Linked DNA regions of Homo sapiens. The protein of the gene in region 2 purifies or fractionates together with the protein of the main gene of each other region. This does not show direct contact. Each region holds a gene or a part of one and is shown on either strand. Other genes may lie near its edges.

Evidence for each region.
Region 1: the proteins of NUSAP1 (region 2) and GSTA2 purify together in Homo sapiens (affinity purification with mass spectrometry; 2 studies listed by BioGRID and IntAct, with this or other methods). This does not show direct contact.
Region 3: the proteins of NUSAP1 (region 2) and MACIR purify together in Homo sapiens (affinity purification with mass spectrometry; 3 studies listed by BioGRID and IntAct, with this or other methods). This does not show direct contact.

What each region holds. Positions count from the first base shown.
Region 1 is NC_000006.12:52,760,392-52,767,660, forward strand, and holds the start of GSTA2 (glutathione S-transferase A2), read right to left. Parts: upstream 3,085-7,269; 5' UTR 3,053-3,084; intron 1-3,052. UniProt on the Homo sapiens protein: Catalyzes the conjugation of glutathione to a large variety of electrophilic compounds.
Region 2 is NC_000015.10:41,349,727-41,356,884, reverse strand, and holds part of NUSAP1 (nucleolar and spindle-associated protein 1), read right to left. Parts: intron 5,898-7,158; coding exon 5,756-5,897; coding exon of another isoform or gene 5,738-5,755; intron 847-5,737; coding exon 745-846; intron 1-744. UniProt on the Homo sapiens protein: Microtubule-associated protein with the capacity to bundle and stabilize microtubules. May associate with chromosomes and promote the organization of mitotic spindle microtubules around them.
Region 3 is NC_000005.10:103,254,045-103,261,846, forward strand, and holds the start of MACIR (macrophage immunometabolism regulator), read left to right. Parts: upstream 1-4,718; 5' UTR 4,719-4,852; intron 4,853-4,985; exon of another isoform or gene 4,986-5,151; intron 5,152-5,180; exon of another isoform or gene 5,181-5,233; intron 5,234-5,379; exon of another isoform or gene 5,380-5,747; intron 5,748-5,861; exon of another isoform or gene 5,862-5,972; intron 5,973-7,802. UniProt on the Homo sapiens protein: Regulates the macrophage function, by enhancing the resolution of inflammation and wound repair functions mediated by M2 macrophages. The regulation of macrophage function is, due at least in part, to its ability to inhibit glycolysis.

The sequences.
Region 1 (7,269 bases), on a different chromosome or scaffold from region 2:
TGGGTCAACAGAAAATGAGAACCAGAGAGCTCAAGGATTTGCCATGGGTCATACACACATGCTCCTCATTCATAGTCAATATCTAGGGAGTGTGTTTACCTTCTGCAACAACCCTGGGAAATGGCTCCTATTATCCTAATTAAAGATGGGTACACTGAATTTCAGAGAGCTAAAGCACCTGTCTCATGCTGCACACGTGGTGAGTGTTGGGTCAGCCTGAACTTCTGATTGCAGGTCCGGAGCTTTTCCACTCCACCTCATAACCTGGCTCTCAGCTCCTGTCTGAGAAGTTGTTTTGTATTTTCCTATTCAATGTATATTAGCCAAATAAATGTTGGAAGGAGAGGGCGAGAGGGGAACATCTAATTCCTGAGTTCCTCCTGTTAGCAACTTTTCAGGGGCTTGCTTGGAAGAAAAAACTAATAAAAGTGTGCCTTTCTCTACTTTGACAACCTAAAAACCAGAGTGAGTTGAGGACTAGTGTAATTACTTTACATCAATAATTAATTTACATCAATTAAAAAATGGGCTTGTTTTGAAAGGACTATAAGGTCTCATATTTCCAGGAGTAAATTAAAGGAGTTACGTCTCTGAGGTTGTCCCAGTGACACTGTTTCTTATCAGAGAGAAGGGAGAATGAGATAAACCATGACTCCTTCCATTATGAGATTCATAAATGCAGTAGGTTGTTTAATCTCTGAGCCTCAATTTTCTCTTCTTAGATTAGAGATAGTTATTTCTACTTTTGAGGGTTGTTGAGAAAGTTAAATGAGATAATGTAGAAAAAAATCATAGTAGGAACACAGGGTGTTTGCTCTTGTCCCAGTGCTTGGAAGATGGGTGAGGCTCTGGACACATTGAGTAGCCCATGGATCTTCTTTCTTTGATCTATCTATCCACCAATTATTTTACCAACCAACAATCTATGTACATGTATCTGTTTATAATCTCTGTCTACCCATCCATGTATGTATTATTTTATCTATCAATCGTTCTATGTATCTATCTCTCTGTAATCTGTCTCTTCATCATCTATTATCTATCTTGTATCCATTTCTCTGGTTCTCTATATTTTGTCCGTAGAACTCTAGTAGGAATAAGATTTTATATGAATCCAGACTTATATCAAATCTGTCATATGATGGCTCTCTGTTTCTCTCTCTCTTTGCTTTTTAGCTCCTGTACAGAGGTCAATGATATTCACTAATCAGCCCACCTGGATTAACAGGAAGTTTTCAGTGAATGTCCAAGCAGTGGGGCACATCGGTAACACAGCCTTGCTTAGCCCCATGAGGTCATGTAGTCCCATGGTTCTCAACCAGGGGGATTTTGTTCCTCTGCTCCAGAGGACATTGAGCAAGGTCTAGAGACATTTTGGGTTGCTATATCTGCAGAGAGGGAGGGGGGCTACAAATCAGATAGGTAGAGGGCAGGGATGTGTGGGGAAAAGAAAGAGAGATCAGACTGTTACTATGTCTATGTAGAAAGAAGTAGACATAAGAGACTCCATTTTGTTCTGTACTAAGAGAAATTCTTCTGCCTTGAGATGCTGTTAATCTGTAACCCTACCCCCAGCCCTGTGCTCACAGAAACATGTACTGTGTGGACTCAAGGTTTAATGGATTTAGGGCTATGGAGGATGTGCTTTGTAAACAAATGCCTGAAGGCAGTATGCTTGTTAAAAGTCATCACTATTCAGTAATGTCAAGTACCCAGGGACACAAAACACTGCGGAAGGCCGCAGGGACCTCTGCCTAGGAAAGCCAGGTATTGTCCAAGGTTTCTCCCCATGTGATAGTCTGAAATATGGCCTCGTGGGAAGGGAAAGACCTGATAGTCCCCCAGCCCGACACCCATAAACGGTCTGTGCTGAGGAGGATTAGTAAAAGAGGAAGGCCTCTTTGCAGTTGAGATAAGAGGAAGGCATCTGTCTCCCGCTTATCCCTGGGCAATGGAATGTCTTGGTGTAAAACCCAATTGTATGTTCCATCTACTGACATAGGAGAAAACTGCCTTAAGGCTGGAGGTGAGACATGCTGGCGGCAATACTGCTCTTTAATGCACCAGATATGTTTATGTATGTGCACATCAAAACACAGCACATTTTCTAACCTTGTTTATGACACAGAGACGTGAGTTTGTTCACGTTTTCCTGCTGACCCTCTCCCCACTATTATCCTATTGTCCTGCCACATCCCCCTCTCTGAGATGGTAGAGATAATGATCAATAAATACTGAGGGAACTCAGAGACTGGCGCCAGCGCAGGTCCTCCATATGCTGAGCCCCGGTCCCCTGGACCCACTTTTCTTTCTCTATACTTTGTCTCTGTGTCTCTTTCTTTTCTCAGTCTCTCATCCCACCCAACAAGAAACACCCACAGGTGTGGAGGGGCAGGCCACCCCTTCAGGGATGCTTAGAAATATCCTAGAGTGGGCAGGACAGATCTCCGTTCAAAGAATTACACAGTTCGCAGCAACAGTCAGAGCCTCTTTCTTAGCTATTCTCTATATTGGCCATGAGTTGGTAGTACTCCAGAGACAGAATATGACTTGTCGTCGAGCTAATTAGTGGCAGAGGCTCAACTAGAATCTAGTCCTCCTAACATTCAAACTAATTTTTTCTAATTATAATAAACCTTAGTTTTGAATTTTCACAGCCAATATAGAATTACAGTGTCACAATTTACAATTGTGTGTTGACTATATATATAAAGAAATTTTTGCATACATTGCCACTTCTTCCAGCACTGATTATTCTCAGATTGTTTAAAATGCTACCATTTCTTTTTTCTCCTCATGTCATTGTTTCCCATACCTTTAAATGCTGAGGCCCTGGTTTTCTAAACTCTTCATTTTTACATTTCTGTAAAGATGTATCCAACAGAAAAGAAATAAACAGTTCTTGAACTGTCACCCAAACACACCAAGATGGCATGATATGAGTAAAAACAAACTTTTTCTTGTGCTAAGGACACATATTAGTGTATTTTTCTAGGAGGCTAGAGAGGAGGGTGTGAGGCAATGTAGAGAGATTTATAAGATCAGTACTTACTTTGTTAAATGCTGTCACCTTTGTGGCTGGACAACCGAATTCCAGGTCCTAATGTATTTATAAGCTCTTTGTTCCTCTCAATAGTTCCCTCCCACTGAAAGAAGGGTCAAGTTAGGGAAAAGCCACTCCCACACATTTCATGGCCAAGGGGCCACCTACTGGATTCTAAGACATGAGGCAAGTGATCTGCTTATCAGAAGACACTGGTTAATATGTTCCTTTTCAAGGTTGGTAATCAAAGTTTAAACAATACATTTCACCTAGATTTTGCTCTTTTTGCAAGTCAGCAGAAACTGGCTTTTTAAAGATACTTTTTTTCATGAGTTGGATGCAAAGACTAGGGCAACTGAAAAAACCCTATTGTGAGCATAGCTGGGAGAGGATGTCTGTGAAGGGCAAGCTGATGCCACCGTTTTCTTACTGGGTTGCCAAATAAAATATAGGACATCCATGTAAATGTGAATTTCAGGCAAACAATCAACAATTTTTTAGTTATAGCTATGTTCCAAACACGGTATGAAACCAGATTATACTGAAATATTATTTATCGTTTACCTGAAATTCACATTTAGGTGGGTATCCTGCATTTTATCTGACAAATCCGGGAACCCTATTTGCATATGCTATCCTCTTTGCGTCACTCAAATTGCCCATAATATAACAAATATGAAAGTATCCATCACCTGGATTCATCAATTGCAAATATTCTTTCTTCATCTACACCATGTAGGGGGTTATGTTGGACCCCAAGAAAGACAGGTCCATATATAAATCCCTAGATCCTGTGAACTTGATCTTATTTGGAAAAAGGCTCTTTGCAGATGTAATGAAGTAAAAGAATTTGAGATGAGATCATCTTGGTATATCTGGATAGGCCCCAAATCCAATGACAATTGTCCTCACAGCAGAGAGAAGAGAAGACACAACACACAGGGGGTGAGGTGCAGGAAGACAGAGGCAGAAATTAGAGTGATGTGGTCATGATCCATGAAAGTCCAGAAAGGCCAAGAGCCCCCCGAAACTAGAAGACGCAGGGAAGGATTCCTGGAAATCACTTCTAATCCAAACACGCTGGCACAATGACACACCAGGGAAAAATAATTTTAAATATAGTTACTTATACGTAATTCACATATACCATCTGTATCTTCGCAGCCAGGCCTGAGTGGCACTGAACGAACTGAGGGAAGGCTTATGCCCGGGTCCCCACAGAGCCTTAAGGAGGAGAGTGAGGATGAGCCAGGAGCACATGCACTGTAAGGGATGACAAGTTGGCCTGAGAGCAGAGGGTGGGTCTGTTTGCTCTTCAATATTTCCTCACCTCCTAGAAAACTGAGGGATCCATAGCAGACAGAAAGGTTGTTTGAAAATGCATAAGAAAAAGTGTTTTCATGAGAAATAAAATGGATGTCAAGGAAAAAAGAAAATTTCATTTTGCCATTCCCCAGAATGATAACTGTTTTCTTGTGCAGAATGTCAGAAGTAAATTTCTATACATGAGTTTTTGATAGGCAATTTCACAAATGTTGCAGGACAATTCTTGAAAAAGTCAAACAAACCACATAGTCTACATTGTACTTTTTACTAAATTTTTAATTCCAAGAAAATTTATGGGCAGTTCGGAAATCTGATTTCATATCAGATACTAATGAAAAGAAATCAATTTTAACTAAATCTGGTCATAGGCATTTTACTATGTAATTAGCATACAATTTTTAAAAAGTTTATTAACTTCACAATAGCCACAACCAACATTTAGATAAAGCAATTTATTGTTGCAAAACTTTAGAATATTGGTATTGCATGTTCTTGGCATCCATGCCTGCTTTATCAAACCTTGAAAATCTTTGTTGCTTCTTGTAAACCTTTTGCATCTATGGGAAGCTTCCTCAGGCTGCCAGGCTGCAAAAACTTCTTCACTGTGGGGAGTTTGCTGATTCTGATTTTCAGGGCCCGCAATGCACAAAGCACAGCCTCAGAGTGAAGCCAAGGACTGACACCACCATTAACACAACCCAGGGAATCTGCGCCCCTCCTACACAAAGACCAACTAAGTTCCCTCTATCAGCACCAGTAGGGAGGCAGAAAGAGACACTACGTGAGAAATGAAGATAAGAGGAAGAACATGCAGCTCACTAGCATTTTCCCAAAAAATGTCTTTAAGACTTTATTCAGTTCAGTCTTCCTACCCTCTTCCTTACACATGAATCTTGTAGATTCATGGCTCTTGTAGAAGATGAGAAAGAACAATGTGCCTGTGAGATATCAGCACAGATCAGTCTCTAAGCAGAAGAAGTGAAGATATGGGAAAATTGAGTTAGAAATGAAAATAGAAAATGTTAAAGTCAAACCATGGGGCCACTTTTTCCCATAGAGAGATATAGCTTTCGGGGACAGCGTGTTGGGAGAGCTGTGCACAAGGAACTCAGTTATCTGACAGCAGGAGCCAGAGCATAAGGAAGGAACCAGATGGAAAGGGCCCTGCTCAGACACACTTGGTGTGGGAAGATAAGGGCATATTGGGATAAAGGGCATCACAGAGAACTCAGGAACAGAAACCACAGTGAAATAAAGGGATGAGGAGAGATGCTGGGCCCTGGGTCCTTGGCATTATAAAAAGCGAAATATTCTTGGGGTAGCATGCACATCAGATTTCCTTGGCATAACAAGAAGGCATTTCCATGCCTCAGAATCAGGACTTGGAAGCTCATTTTGGAGACCTGGGGGGCCCTGAAGACCTGGAGAAGGCTGAGGTCAGAATGTGGCCAGTCCAAGGGCCCAGATACTAGATCCCAAGATGGGAGATGAGGAGCTGCCTCTTGAGGACTGGGAAATGGGTCACCTTTAGCACAGGGAAGTTGGAGATGAGGCTGGAGTCAGGCTCTTCCACGTGGTAGAGAAGTTTGACCAGGTGAATGTCAGCCTGGCTCAGCTTGTTGCCAATGAAGTAGTCTTGTTCATGGCTCTTCAACACCTGGAGAATCAGAGGAATCAGATCAGGAACACATGTGCAATGAGGCTGGGGCCTCTGCTTCTCCCTGAGTTTGTCCAGGCTGACTCTCCCTCTCCCACCTCTGCTTCCTTACTGGGCAGGTGCAGAGATCCAGACCTTTCTCCATGTTACCTGATTCAGTGAGAGAGTAAGAAGTGTGGCTCTGCTCACTCCTTGTTTGGAGCCCAGGCTCCCATTTTCTCTTCTCATTCCACATCACTATGGCATCCACAGCACCCACCCAGCTTGCAACTTCCACATGGGCCAGGGGCTTATCCCCTGCTGCAGCCTGTTCTGTCTGCCCCAGGCCCTACAGTGTGCATCCCTGATGTTCAATGGCTCTACACACTCTCTCTCCAGTCTCTCTTGGGCAGCGACTCCACCTTCATGACAGCACTCTTCTCCCACGAGTAGACTATTTCAGAATCCTCATTTCTCCTCATCTGCCCTCCTCATTTCCTGCTCTGGGATCTGAAATAAGCCTGGGTGAACTTTAATTCATCCTCTTTCTTGCAATGGTGGTTCTTACTGCTTTGACTATGTTATAATCTGCATGCCACTGTGTCCCAGGGTGAACTGCAAAGATGTCTGCAACTTACTTTGAAATGCACAATAATAATAATAATAATAATAATAATAATAATAATAATGTGTTTGAGTGAGGCAAACAGGGGTGGAGTGACTGACACGTGATAAATCAAAGATAAAAGGTTAACTTTGCTCTTTAGATCCTTGGTGTATATATGTTCATAAAACATTTCTTTGGACTACACTAGGTGTATTCATTTTTAATAATACAATTTTTGACTGATATATGATATTTATTAAAATATCTCAGCACATTGACATCATAAATAATAAAAAGAGAAAACATGGCAACATTGATTTAAGATAATATTTTGGCAAATACATTTTCACACTATGTATACATACAAACGTATAGATAATGACTTGGTACACAAACAAAACAACTTCAATGCTATATTGTAATATACATTGTTCAAATGCACATATCACAGGCTATTTGGTAGAACTCGTAGTATTCTTATTCACAGTCTATTTTTATACCATGCCTTGAGAGTCAGGTGCTCCATTAACATCAAGGAAAGCTTTTTGGAAGTGAAGGTCAATGCCCCAAAAATACACAGGTACTATTTTATTTTTCTGTTGCCTTGTGTTATGGACTGAATGTTTATGTTTCCCAAAAATTCATATGTTGAGATCC
Region 2 (7,158 bases):
AAGCAATGTTCCAACAATATAAGATAGAGAAGACTTACATGCCCAAAAACGGAATCATTTAGACTTATGAAAAACTCATTAGAAGGTGGATATTGTACCAAGTAGTTCATACATTGATTCATCAGTTGTTTATTGAATCCTTGCTGCATGCTATTTGCCGTGATAGGGAAGCAGTAGTGGAAAAAGTATTCTCAATTTATGTATCTATCAACCTGATGAAATAGGTACTATAGGCCAGGCAGAGTGGCTGACGCCTGGAATCCCAGCACTTTGGGAGGCCGAGGCAGGCGGATCATGAGGTCAAGAAGTTGAGACCATGCTGGCCAACATGGTGAAACCCCATCTGTTCTGAAAATACAAAAATCAGCTGGGCGTGGTGGAGCACACCTGTAGTCCCAGCTACTAGGGAGGCTGAGTCAGGAGAATCACTTGAACCTGGGAAGTGGAGGTAGCAGTGAGCCAAGCTCACGCTACTGCACTCTAGCCTGGGTGACAGAGCAAGACTCTGTCTCAAAAAAAAAAAAAAAAAAGAAAGAAATAGGCACTATAGTATAACTATTTCCACTTTGCACTGAGGAAGTGAGTTTATTGAGGATGAGTAAGTTCCCCAAGATATCAAACCTAAAAGACGAGAGAACTAGAATGTAAACTGGTTCCAGCCTCTATGCTTTCAGCTGTTACAGTCCAACATCATTCCGAAGTGGGGCAACCATTACTTATTATGGCTTTGTCTACAAAACTTACTTGGAGTAGTGATTGCAGTTCTTTTATTTTTTCCAGGTTTGGATGACTCATCTGTGTAGAGAGATTTCTTTCCTTCTGAAGGTACCTTTGAATCTCTGTTACCTAAATCCAAAGACACAGAAATAATGAAGGATTTCAAAAAAGTTCTCATTAAGAAATATGTGGCCGGGCACGGTAGCTCACGCCTGTAATCCCAGCACTTTGGGAGGCCGAGGCGGGTGGATCACGAGGTCAGAAGATCAAGACCATCCTGGCTTATAAACTATCAAACCCCATCTCTACTAAAAATACAAAAAGTCAGCCGGGCGTGGTGGTGGGCGCCTGTAGTCCCAGCTACTCGGGAGGTTGAGGCAGGAGAATGGTGTGAACCCGGGAGGCGGAACTTGCAGTGAGCCGAGATCGCGCAACTGCACTCCAGCCTGGGCAACAGAGTGAGACTCCACCTCTAAAAAAACAAAAACAAAAACAAAAACAAAAAAAAAAACGTGTGTAAGTTAACAGAGTATTTTCACATGGTAGGCTCTGTCAAGATGGTGGTAGAAACAGCACATAGGGAGCACAAAAAATTAGTTACAGCATTCCTACGATTACAGGTCATATGCTTCAAGTAGGCATTCAGAAATTTTCTGACACCTGTGGAGAAGTTATATAAACATATTAGAAAGTTGGTCAGGCGCCGCGGTGGCTCCCACCTGTAATCCCAGCACTTTGGGAGGCCGAGGCGGGTGGATCATGAGTTCAAGAGATGGAGACCATCCTGGCCAACATGGTGAAACCCTGTCCCTACTAAAAATACAAAAATGAGCTGGGCGTGGTGGGGCGTGCCTGTAATCCCAGCTACTCAGGAGGCTGAGGCAGGAGAATCGCTTGAACCCAGGAGGTGGAGGTTGCAGTGAGCTGAGATCACGCCACTCTACTCCAGCCTGGCAACAAAGCGAGACTCTGTCTCAAAAAAAATAAATAAATACATAAAATAAAAATACAGAAAGTTGGCCAGGTGCAGTGGCTCATGCCTGTAATCCCAGCACTTTGGGAGGCTGAGGTGGGTGGATGGCTTGAGTCCAGGAGTTTGAGACGAGCCTGGGCAACACAGCAAGACTCTGTCTCTATTTTTTTTTTTTGAGATGGAGTCTCGCTCTTTCGCCCAGGCTGGAGTGCAGTGGCGTGATCTCGGCTCACTGCAAGCTCCACCTCCCGGGTTAAAGCCATTCTCCTGCCTCAGCCTCCCGAGTAGCTGGGACTATAGGCGCCCGCCCCCACACCCGGCTAATTTTTTTTGTATTTTTAGTAGAGACAGGGTTTCACCGTGTTAGCCAGGATGGTTTCCATTTCCTGACCTTGTGATCTGCCTGCCTCAACCTCCCAAAGTGCTGGGATTACAGGAGTGAGCCACCGCGCCCTGCCCTGACCCCGTCTCTATTACTAAAAAATTATTTAATATAAATTAAACATATATATATATATATATATCGGTTAAAACAAACTTTTTCAGTTTTTATTATGAACATAATATTGTTACAACTAGTGATAAAAGTCACGTAATCCAATCAGCCAAAGAAAACACCATTAACGTCTGGCATATTTCCTCTGGTCCTCTGCTTCCTATACTTATTTTGGTTGTTGTCATTTGTTTGTTTTGAGACGGACTCACACTGTCGCCCAGGATGGAGTGCAGTGGCGCGATCTTGGCTCACTGCAACCTCTGCCTCCAGGGTTCAAGAGATTCTCCTGTCTCAGCCTCCTAAGTAGCTGGGATTACAAGTGTGAGCTACCACACCCGGCTAATTTTTGTATTTTTAGTAGAGACAGGGTTTTGTCATGTTACCCAGGCTGGTCTCGATCCTGACCTCAGGTGATCCATCCACCTTGGCCTCCCAAAGTGTTAGGATTACAAGCGTAAGCCACTGCGCCTGGCCTGTTTGCTTCTGTGAAGAGACAAGGTCTCACTACGTTGCCCAGCTGGCCTCAAAATCCTGGGCACAAGTGATACTTCTGCTTCAGCCTCCTGAGTAACTGGGACTACAGGCATGTGCCACTGTAGCCAGCTTATTATTATTATTTTTTAACTTCAGTTGAAATTATGGTATATATTAGGTTAGGTATTTTTTCCCACTTACCATAATCATTTTCCAAATTCTGTCGTTTCTTTATTTTTTTGACCTTAATGGAATTTATTAGGCAAGGATGGAAAAGAACCATTCCAGGCAGAGGGAACAATAGTGATATATAAAGCTGTAGTACAGTGGAAATAATGACATTCAGAGAAACTGAGGTAGGCTGAAATTGCTGAAGTGTAGGGTGCATAAGAGGGAGTGGAGGACGTTGAGAATAGGACAGGTAGCGGGTTAAACCATAAAGGGCCCCGTATAATATGCTATAGAGCTATGAGTCTAATCTTACAAATATAAGAAAGCCTCAATCTTACATCTTTTTCAACTTCAGGCAATCTATTTTAAAAATATGCAATGAGCTTTCATCTCTTTTTAATTATTTTTTTCTTTTCTTTCAACCACTGATTTACAAGCAAGTGGGTTTCCAAGAAATACCATTTCTAAAGTTCTCATCCTTAAGTTTCCCCAATGTATCCGTAAAACAAGGCAGAGGAATGTTCTGTCAGTGTTGGAATGGTCGCAGGGGCTTCTGCTTAGACTTTGGCTATAAAACCAGAAGGTGAAAGTTTCATGAGAAACAGGATATTTGGCAGGGTTTGGTGGCTCACGCCTGTAATCCTGGCACTTTGGGAGGCCGAAGTGGGCCGATCACCTGAGATTAGGAGTTCGAGACCAGTCTGGCCAACATGGTGAAACCCTGTCTCTACTGAAAAAACAAAAACATGGTGGTGCACACATGTAATCCCAGCTACTTGGGAGGTTGAGGCAGTGGAATTGCTTGAGACTGGGAGGCAAAGGTTGCAATGAGCCGAGATCCTGTCACTGTACTCCCGCCTGGGCAACAGAGAGAGACTCTGTCTCAAAACAAAACAAAACAAAGAAAGGATATTTATGTAGAGTAACTCTCCACAGGATACTTACTAATTCCAAGTGGTAAAAGAGTAACTTCACAAAGAAACAACCTAGCAGACACCACCATAACTAACTGATGGAAGTTAACGTGACTAGCCATAGGAAAAACCAGCACTTGTGCCTCCTAGGGTGCTTACTGAGGAAGCAACAGCATTGCTCTTTGGGATTCCTGCCAACAGCCCATAGTCTGATTCTAAGCATGAGGACATATTAGACAAACCAACTCAGAGGACAAAAAACTGGCCTGTATTAAAAAATGCTGGCTGGGCATGGTGACTCACACCTGTAATCCCAGCACTTTAGGAGGCTGAAGTGGGCAGATTACTTGAGCTCAGCAGTTTGAGACCAGCCTGGGCAACATGGTGAAACCCTGTCTCTACTAAAAATACAAAAATTAGCCGGGCGTGGTGGTGCATGCCTATAGTCCCAGGTACTCAGGAGGCTGAGGCTGCAGTGAGCTGAGATCGTGCCACTGTGCTCTAGCCTGGGCAACAGAGCAAGACCCTGTCTCAAAAATAAATAAATAAATAAATAAATAAAAATTAAAAATTACCTGGGAGACTTGTTAAAAACTGAAGATTCCCAAGCCCATCTCAGACCCAAGGAATCCTGTAATTTTCTAGATTCAGTATGACACTCAAAGTTTTAGGGAAAATGAGAAGGCTCAGGATTAGAAATTCCAGATTTAACTGCTTGGTGGATACTGGAATGAATTATCCTCTCTCAGTCTCTCTAACTCCTCCTCTGGCAAGGCTCAGGGCCCTAGCAGATTTGCCCAGGTGAAACTAATACTGAGATATTTTATTTTCATTTATTTATTATTATTTTTTATTTTTTAAGAGCAGAGGTTTAGTAGGCAAAAGAAAGCGAAAGGAAGGCCGGGTGCGGTGGCTCACGCCTGTAATCTCAGCACTTTGGGAGGCTGAGGTGGGTGGATCACGAGGTCAGGAGTTCGAGACAAGCCTGGCCAACATGGTGAAACCCCGTCTCTATTAAAAATACAAAAATTAGCTGGGCCTGGTGGCACGAGCCTGTAATCCCAGCTACTTGGGAGGCTGAGGCTGGAGAATCGCTTGAACCCAGGAGGTGGAGGTTGTAGTGAGCCAAGATCGTACCATTGCAACTCCAGCCTGGGCAACACAGCAAGACTCTGTCTAAAAAAAAAAAAAAGAAATTCTATAACATGGTGCTATGGGTTGAATTGTGGCCCCCTAAAAGATATGTTGAAGTCCTAACCACTGGTACCTGTCATATGACCTTATTTAGATATGGGAATTTTTTTTCAGATGTATTAAGGTTAAAATGACATCATTTGGATGTTCTTTTAATTTTTTGAGATAGGGTCTCACTCTGTCCATGCTGGGGTGAAGTGGTATGAAGATGGCCCACTGCAGCCTTAACCTCCTGGGTTCAAGCAACCCTTTCACCTCAGCCTCCTGAGTAGCTGGGACCACAGGTGTGCACCATCATGGCTGGCTGATTCTTTTGACTTTTTGTAGAGACAGGGTCTCACCATGTTGCCCAGGCTGGTCCTGAACTCCTAGGCTCAAGCAATCCTCCTGACTTGGCTTCCCAAAGTAATGGGATTATAGGCACCAGCCACTATGCTTGGCCTATTTGGGTGGATCCTAATCCAATATGACTGCTGTCCTATTAAGAAGACATAGAGAGAGAATGTCATGCGCTGTCAGAGCCAGAGACTGGTAATGATGCAGCTGCAAGCCAAGGAACACCAAGCGTCGACAGCCATCGCAAAGTAGTCAGAGGCAAGGAAGGAGTCCACCCAGAGTCTCAGAGAAGCATGGTCCTGCTGACACATTGATTTTGGACTTCCAGCCTCTAGAACTATGAAAGAGTAAATTTCTGTTGTTCTAAGCTGCCCAGTTGTGGTGCTTTGTCACAACAGTCCTAGGAAATTAATGTACCTGGCTACTTCTAGCAATTTTGGTTTTTAAAGTTACTTGACATACCATTTATTCCACGTTTACCTGAGGAAACAGCATTCTCAGCTTCTTGGTGCTCGTCTGGTGGAGAAGGAACTTTTGCAGTAGCTCTGAGATCCTGGCTTTCCTGCTTTTCATGATTCTGGAATTCAGTGGGATTACTTATTTTTATCTCTGAATGATTCTGCTACAAATTTAAAAAGGAAATAAAAGATTTCGATGATAAATAAGAATTGCTGCCTTCCAAAGATAAGTACCAAAGTGAGGGGGAAAAGGGGTTAAAGGAAGAAAAGTAGGAGAATGAGATTTTTGGTGGCAGATTTGGTTCTCTGCCTTATCAACTGTCACGAGAATGTAAATTTGAGAACAGGAGATACTAGGGCACATTAAGAGGAAAATAGAAATGGCAAGATTAGCTCTGTTAGCAAGGACAAATGAAGAAACCTAGACAGTCTACTGAGCAAGTGACTACATTGAGGCAGAAATTTAAATAATAATAAGTACTGCATTTATTCACTCCAAGAAAAGTAAAAACTAAGGCCCAGAATGTGGCAAGGCAAGAGTTAAAAAGAAAAGAACAAGTTTTCCTCTGCCTAGTAGCTCACTTTGAAGACAGTTAGAAGATAACGCTGTCCAAATAGCCAAGGCCAAAGGAATAAGCTCCAGACACCACCCTCCCCCCGACCCCTGGTTCCAGAGCAAGGTTGAAAGAAAAAAAAAAGAGAAATACAAGTTCTTTTAATGTTACTCTTTTCCCGGGCTTCTTAAGCATGATTAGCATGATTATGTTTTACAAATGTCTGTATTTAGCCAGTTCTTGTTTTTCTTTTAATGCAGCTACAAGGCCACTGGCTAAGTCACAAGTTATGTTACGCTATAGATTATGTAACCTGTTACTGTATGATTAATTGCTTTTATTTTGCTTCTGTAAAGCCACTTATAAAAACCCGCTCAGTCTTTGTTCAAGGCTCAGCTTTTAGATGTGAATCCTCCGAGCCGGTGCGTGCCTAAAATAAACAAATCCTCCTGTACTCCGTATTAGTCTCTCCGTTCCTCAGTTTACTGCAACAATATGAACATAGAAAAGAAAATTAAGACTGTGTTTCAGGGCTGGGCATGGTGGCTCACACCTGTAATCCTAGCACTTTGGGAGGCCGAGGTGGGTAGAGCACCAGAGGTCAGGAGTTCAAGATTAGCCCAGCCAACATGGTGAAATCTCGTCTCTACTAAAAATACAAAAATTAGTTGGGCGTGGTGGTGGCCACCTGTAATCTCAGCTACTCAGGAGGCAGAGGCAGGAGAATTGCTTGAACCTGAGAGGTGGAGGTTGCAGTAAGCTGAGATGGTGCCATCACACTCCATACTGGGCAACAAGAGTGAAACTCTGTCTCAAAAAAAAAAAAAAAAAGAAAAGAAAAAAGAAAAAAAAGACTGTGCTTTGTAAAAAT
Region 3 (7,802 bases), on a different chromosome or scaffold from region 2:
TAAAAAATAGAACCACTGTAATTGTACATTAAACTATGTCCTCCAATGTTACAGAAACAATTGGCGCCACCTTTATGCCTTTTATTTCTCAATTTGTTTGGAATGGGGCAGGAAAGGGGGTGCTACTTGGGCCCTCTTGAAAACCATTTCTCTCACCTCTTAATTTATGAATGAAGGGGCTGAGGCCAACAGAAGTAAAGTTTAATTTGCCCAGATTCAAGTGGTAGTTTATGAGTACCTGTTCTGTGCCAGTCTAGATATTGTAAAGGATACACGTATAAACACAACTCAAGTTTCTTAAGAAGCTTATAATTTAGTGACCAACCGGAGGTCCCACAGCAAGCTGGAACTGAGAAGTGATTTCTCTGTTGTTTATAATGCTGTTATATTTTTGTTTCCTCTATTTTCTATCTTCTTTTTTTATTGATATAATTGAGTTAAATAGGCTTTTCTATGCAAATTATGGAATTTAATTACATTTTCTTTCTATGAAAGAATATTTCTAAAAGCACAGATTTTAATTCTCTGAACTGCTGTCCTCCTCCGCACACAGGAGGGGCCCTTTGAAGATTATCAAATGGTATGCTGGTAAACTGGCTTTCTGGGGGGTGGGGAGATTAGAGAGAAATGGGAAGCCCTGTTTATAGAATTTGCCAATTTCTATGGTGTAAATACTCCTACCATAGCTGATTTCAAGCTACTGATGATTTAACAACCAGTTTGCAAAGTTCCTGAAAATTTAGCAATCAGTACTTCTGAGCCAGATACAAGATACAAGCTGGCTTCAGCAGACCTTACTACAGGTTCTTCTCCCACTCCTCGCAGTAAAAATAGGCTAAATATTTACTGAGCACCTGTTATATGTCAGTCTCTGGGCTTTCTTTGGGGGTTAGACATAGTCTGAGACCTCAGGGAATGTATAGTTTAGAGGGGGAGATAGTATATTTCAGCACTGTGTGGTATTAGGCCAGGGAAATGAGAAATATCAGTAGGAATCAGAAAACTCTTCTTAGAGGTGGTGACATCTACATGAAATCTGAGGAATGGCAAAGAATTAGACTGAGAGGGAGGGGTGGAGAAGAATGCTCCACAGGAAACAATTATGTACAGGCTTAAATAATGAATAAGCAGAATGTGAGTGTGGAGTTAGAAGTGGTCTAGCAAGAGCTGAAGGGCAGCCTGAATTTCCCTCCTGAGCGCCCACTCCACATATCTGGCCTTCTGCTTGACACCTCCATGAGGATGTGCCACAGAGTCACCAAATTCAACATATTCCAAAGTAAGCTCCTTCCACCTTTCTCCTCCTCAGCTTGGTCCACAATACTAACCGTCTCTTACTTCTATGGCTGGATAATATTTTGAGATACTAATTTATGATTTTTTTTCCAACTTGTATTTACCCCCTTGTTGCCTTCGGGAGAGATGTGGCAGGGTAGAGAGGAGTTGCCTGCAGATCATTTTTTCATTCTGGCTCTTACTGAAAACAACCTGAGCCCCCAGAGACAGAATAGAGTTTGCTGGCAATGGCAGAGTGTCTGGGAAAAAAAAAATGAAGAGGAAGGATTTTCCTTAAGAAGTGATTCCCTTGTATCTGGAAAGAAGAGGATAGAAGTCAGTATGTCCCAAGGCAGTGGGATTTGAGCCCTGAACTTGGACCACCATAATACCCTAAACATAAATGACCGAGGATGTGTGAGGCTTAGCAGGATGGTCCCAGATCTAGGAAATTCCTCTGGCCTCAGGTGTGGTGCCGGAGCCAAAGGGAGGGAACCAGTGTATAGGGCAGGGCCGTCTCGTCTATAGGCAGGTTGTGCACTGTATCATGGAACCATAGGTGGCAGCTCCAGGAAGGAACAAAGGAAACCTCTGTGGACAGATGACTGCAATCCGAAGGACCTCCCCTCCACTCCCTGCCATCATCACCCATTCATGGTCTGGTCTGGCATATGCTCTTGGAACTTTGACCCTGCTCGAGGGAATGAGGGAAGAACTTTACAAAAGAGTAAGGCCTTTAAAGAGAAATAAAATCAAGTGCAGATTCACGTTCTATGTTCTTCTCCTAGTCTCCTCAGTGTCTCAAAGGGCTGATCCCCGTAGGCTGTTTCCCTGGCTCCCATGGCAGGTGTATCAGACTTGGCCAATGCAAGGCACTGGAAGGAGATTGGAGGGCAGGAGAGGAGAACGTATAGTACATTTCCCCCTTCTCCCTCCCTAGATTGCTTCTTTGGCAGTGGTTGTTTCTCCTCTATGGCCGCAGCTCTCACCAGGCTGGCCATGCTGCCTGGGCCCTGGACTCCAATAACCCTGCCTCTTCTCTTATTTCTCCAGCTAGAGGTCGCAGTTGCTAGTTTCTGGATTACTGTGCCATCTCCTGATTAGCTTCTGACTTTTCCTATCACCTACGTTACCAATTTCTTGCATTCAATTACTTCTGTAGATACTCAAAATGGTTTCTGTTTTCCTGGTTAGACCCTGCTTGAAACAAATGAGTTTATAGAAAAGAAGGTAATGTGGTATTTCTTGCACACCTGTCTTTGTAGATTCTGTTTTACATCATTATGTTGTTATCAAATTCACCTATTCTGTTCTCTCAAGCTGGTTGTTTGCTAGCCGACATCATTTACATCAACGTAGTATAATATTTCCCAGGCAGCTGACATTTTAAAGTCATTTTAAAGGGATTTTCTGGAAAGGATGCCTTGAGGCAAAGACATAACTTACACAAGGAGTGTGTGAGATGGAGCTTCTGAGTCCCCAAATTCAGAAGGCCTTTCAGGGCTCTGGGTCTATTCTACATTTGGGCCTAACCCTTTATATGAATGCCATTTTTCTTTATAGGTTGAAGAGATCTTCCTAAAACACTAAAAAGCTCTGGGAAGGGATTCTGCATTAACTTGCACCTCTTATATGCCCCTCAGCCACGGCACTTGCAACCCACATCCAATCCGAGTGAAGACAATACCCAGTCAGTATCTCTAGGTGGCATAAACATATCCTTGATGGAGCCACACATAAAGCTATTATCAACCATTACTGCATGGTGAATTGGTTTATTAGGTGTTCTTTGTGACACTCAAGAACTGACTTAGGTTCTGATTGGGTGAAGATTCAGGGTTAGGATGGGAGCATAGAACACCACCCAGGGAGGGAGGCAATTTGGAGACAATGCCCTCAAGAGAGCTAGCCTTGAGCCTAATAAACTAAGAGGGGAACTTTATTGCTTTTGGCCAAAGCACACTGCCAAACTCTCAGCGCAAAGGGCAAGTACAAGACATTCTTCTGAAAAAGTTATAAGATTTCAGACAGGAAGAAATGAAATTAAGTCTCTTAATATAAAATATACAATGTTTTGGAGGTGGTTTTATGAGAATGATCATCAGGACAATACACTATTGTGTCAAACAGATTATAATCGGAAATAATTCTCGGTGTATTCTCCTAATGTACTGATGCAAAAAAAGTTTCTTCATTTATTTATTCATATTATGTTGTGCTAGCTTCTATATTTTTGAAATTACATGCAAATCTATGTCGGGAAAAAAAGTAACTGATGTTTTGTAAAATTGTTTAGGGAACATTCCTTAAAACTTATTCTTCCCTCTACCTTCCTTTACTTATTTTAGGGCACATAAGCAGTAGCATAAAATGGCTTATAGCTGAGCGGCCTCCGGGAGTGGTTCTGTTGGACTAGAGGTGTTTATATATTTTTTGCCTTTATATTATCAGGAACATATGTAGATTCTGGAACAAGTGTGAATCAAGACTCGTTTAAACTTATATTAATCTACTCCAGATTTATGTCTTTTATGTTAAGATAAAGCATTTTGTCTTTTAAAAAATAAAACTCTCTTGATTGGACACTGGTACCGAAATTTATAACACTTATAAACAATTTTGGGGTTCACCGACTGCGTACACATTCAGCCTTAGCCACTCAGTAGGCATATGACCTAAACTTTCTGCATTTTTAAAATGTGGATCATAATTGGTTACTTCCTCACAGAATGGTTATTGAGAGATGTAAATTTGGATATGCATGCCAGTAAATATTCTTATTGCTGAGCTTAACCAGTTCGGCAGAAATGTACATGAATTGAGAGAAGCAAATCTTCATCAAAGAAAATAATTTATTACAATAATAGACAAGATCAACATTTGTGCAAATTAAAAAATAGTTAATCCAATCAGAATCTGAATTTGAACTCCCCCCCCCGCCCCACCCCGCCACCTTCACTGGGTATTACGAGTTTTCGTAGACTGATCCTATAATTTTTAATTTCATGGCCTTCTAGTTTTCTGTACTTTTGCTTAGTGCTGAGCCCTTTAAGCAGAGACTCACAAGTGACAAATATCAGCACACCACTTAACTGAGGAAGCCGGAGTGTTCCCAGGTCCGCAAGTTGGAGCTCTTTAGTTGGAGTGCTGGGTTTAGACTAGAGAGCGGGTGTTGCGACTCCTCCTCCCCACCACCAGTCAACAACCCCGCCCACCCCCGCCAACTTCTTCTGGCCTCTTAGCGCCTTTCTGCAGCCAGCCGGCCCGCCCTTCCTCCGGGTGTCTGAGAGCTGGGCGCAGGAGGCGGGCTCAGCGCTGACGGGCTGCGCCTCTGCAGCCAGAGGGAGGAGGCGGGAAGGCGGGCGGAGGAGGAGGCGGAGGAGGAGGCGGAGGAGGGGGCGGGGACTAAGCAGGGCGGTAGCTGGCGCCGAGCGCGGTGGGAGAGGAGAGGGTACCCGGCTGGCTCGGCTGGCGGCCTCTGCCTGGATCTCGGCGCCGCAGTCCTGCGCCTCTCCCGCCCCTGTCTCCCGCTCCGCAGCCCCGGGCACGGCGGAGGCAGCGGAGCCCTGGGCCATCGGTAGGTTGCACGGGGACGACGGCTCCGTCTGTAACCTTTTGTGCTGCAGAAAAGGTGGTGGTTATGGGGGGCTTGGGGGAGTGGGTTTGCCCCAGGCTCCGATCCCCAGTGCCAGCCCTAATCGCGGCGCCGCCCCTTCCTCTCCGCCTCGTGTCTGGGCCGGGCGCACGATGCCCGCGGTGCTGGGGAAACCCGGCCGGACCAGCTTCTGCGATGGGCGGCGGGGCGGCCCCAGCGTCCCTTGGCCTTGGTGGACCGGTTCCCAGGCACCCGAAGGGGACTGGGGTCTGGTAAACTGGGTGGGGCCCGCGCGGGGTGCGGGGAGCTTGCGGTTCCCTGGCACAGGGGTGGGGCCGCAGACGCCGTGAGTGTGCAGCGCGTGTGAGTGTGCGGGGGCGTGCGCCCCCGTGTGCGCGCGTCGTGCGCTCGCTGGGGAGGTGCGGGGACTCGGCGACCCGGAGCGCCTCTCCCGCGGTGCCGCGGTGCGGAAGTCGGGGCGCGTTGGCGCGCACGCTCGCTCGCTCCCTCCCTTGGCCGCTGTTCCCGCACCGCGGGGCAGCGGGCCTGGAGGCCCCTTTGAGAAGTAGCTTTCCCCGGCCGGCGGCACCTTTGGCTGCGTGCCCGGCCGCGCTCAGGGTGCGACTGCCCGGGTCAGATAGCACCTCAGGGCGAGCCCCGGCGGTCTGATCTCGCCGACCCTCCTCGTCCTGGTTGCAACCCGCGTGCGAGGCCGCCCGCGCCCTCCGAGTGTCTGCCGGTGCAGTGGGGGTGGACTGGCCGGCTGTGGCCGTGTGTGCGCGTGTGGATTGGGGCCCGGTCCGAGCCAGAAGCTTAAGCGGCAGATGTCGGGCATTGCCACCCTCGCCCCACCTGTCGCGGGTGGACTTTGGGGCAGGTGGGAAGCGGAGGAGAGGGGTTTCGAGGCGGGTGGCAGTCAGACCTCCAGCAACGCGGCCCCATTGTGAAGCTGCCAAACTCTCTCTAGTGGTGGAATCTGCAGGTCTCCGCCAGAAAGGAGATGGGAACGCGAAGGGAATGATGGCCCCGTCCTTTTCCCCTTGCTAGTGTTCCACACGCTTAGGGACTCCCTGCCTCTCCTTCCACCTCAGTTTTCAACCCAGTGGGTTACTGATTTGGGTGGAACCAAGATTTCCGTGTGTGTGTGTGTGTGTGTGTGTGTTTGTGTGTGTGTGGTGCACAGGTAAAGCTGGAGCTGGGAACTTTTTATTTGAGCAGGAAGAATGGAGGCATTTTACAGTGTGCTTGCCGCTCCTAGCTGAAAGAACAATTCTTGCATATTTCTGATGTTACTAGACTCATTTTCCTTTTTTTTTTTTTTCCGAAGAGCCAACCTACAATTTAGGGTTGTTAGTTGTTTTATTTTCTCAAATCCTGTAATGCTGGATTGACACTATAGAGGTAGAAATGACCCTTTTGCAAAGTTTATTTTCCCAGTCATTTCAAAATATAGTATTGGTTATTACGGCAGAAGCTTTTGGCCGCGATTTATGATTACACTATTAAGTTTAATGAATGTGTCACAGAATCCTCAGTGTTTTAATTATGTAACTGTGAATGCATTATAAACTGAAAAGTAAAATGAACAGGATGGAATATAAGAGTTAATGAATACAGAGACCTGTTAATTTGATAATAATTGATGTATAGAATATGCTTTTGCTAACAGTTTATTTAATTGCAAATGAAAGTGTTAGTAATTATTTCAGTGTATAAGATATATTTATTGATATTATATAACAGTCAATGAATTTGCTTATTTTCTTTGTATATTTCTGTGTATTTTAGAGAGCTATTATAAAATTAACTCAAAAGTACTTAATATGGTTAGAGTAATAAAGCTTTATGTACAGGGTTTAAAATTTCTTTGCTGATTTGTAGCTGGGGGTGAGGTGGGGGATCAGCTCCTTTCCTCCAGAGAGAACTTTGATTTTGTCACCAGCCTATCAAAATGAGTACCTGGTTTTAAGCCTTCCCAAAGATTAGCCAATTCCACAGTGTACACCTGTTCCATTTTGATGATACTTCCTAAGAGACAAATTTCTTGTAAAGGCTGCATGTTGACCTTTAGTTCCACTTACTGTCGGTCATATTTGCAGTGAAACTGAGTATTTTTCTAAAAGTAGAAGGATGACACCACGTGATAAGAAGATATTAGTAACCTAGGTTTAATTTTTACTAGCAGAAATGGAAAGATAATGAGTGCTGCACTTTAAGGGGGTGGATTGCTATTAAAAGAACTGATACTAGAAAGAGAAACACATTTTTGTCTTACTGAACGAATTATGGGTTATCTTACAAAGTTGGCAAGGTTAATGGTTTGTTTGTAAGGTCAAGGATGGTTTCAGAAAAGTCACACCCTAGTTAACTCTTCTTAAAGAGTATTGATGACTTACTTTTTGCAAGTTGCAAATGGTAAAGTAAGAATATTTGAAAGAAGCCTCTAAGATGAGCATCTAGGTGCAGCTAAACATTTTGTTTTCATTGTTGTGTTGTACTTTGACAGTTAAGCCATTTTATTTCTGCTTAGTGTTCAGTTAGTATTCCTCCAGAGATGTTTTGGTTCATCTTTTACTTGTTTTTAGTGGTCTTTGAGATTAGTGGTTACAAAATATTTTCACTATTTTGAAAGAATTTTTAAAAATTGATGTTTTTTTTCCAAGTGCTTTTCCATTAGTGGTCTCTTCTTAAATAGCCACTCTGAAAATACTACCTGTTTTTCTTTTTCTTTCTTTCTTTCTTTCTTTCTTTCTTTCTTTCTTTCTTTCTTTCTTTCTTTCTTTCTTTCTTCCTTTCTTTCTTTCTTTCTTTCTTTTCTTTCTTGAAAATGTTTTGGTGGGCTTCAGGTTAGGGCCATGAAAAAAATGAAAATAAATGTTTTGATAGCTAGAATTAGAACTCACAGCTTCTACTGTACCAATTTCTCTGCCTA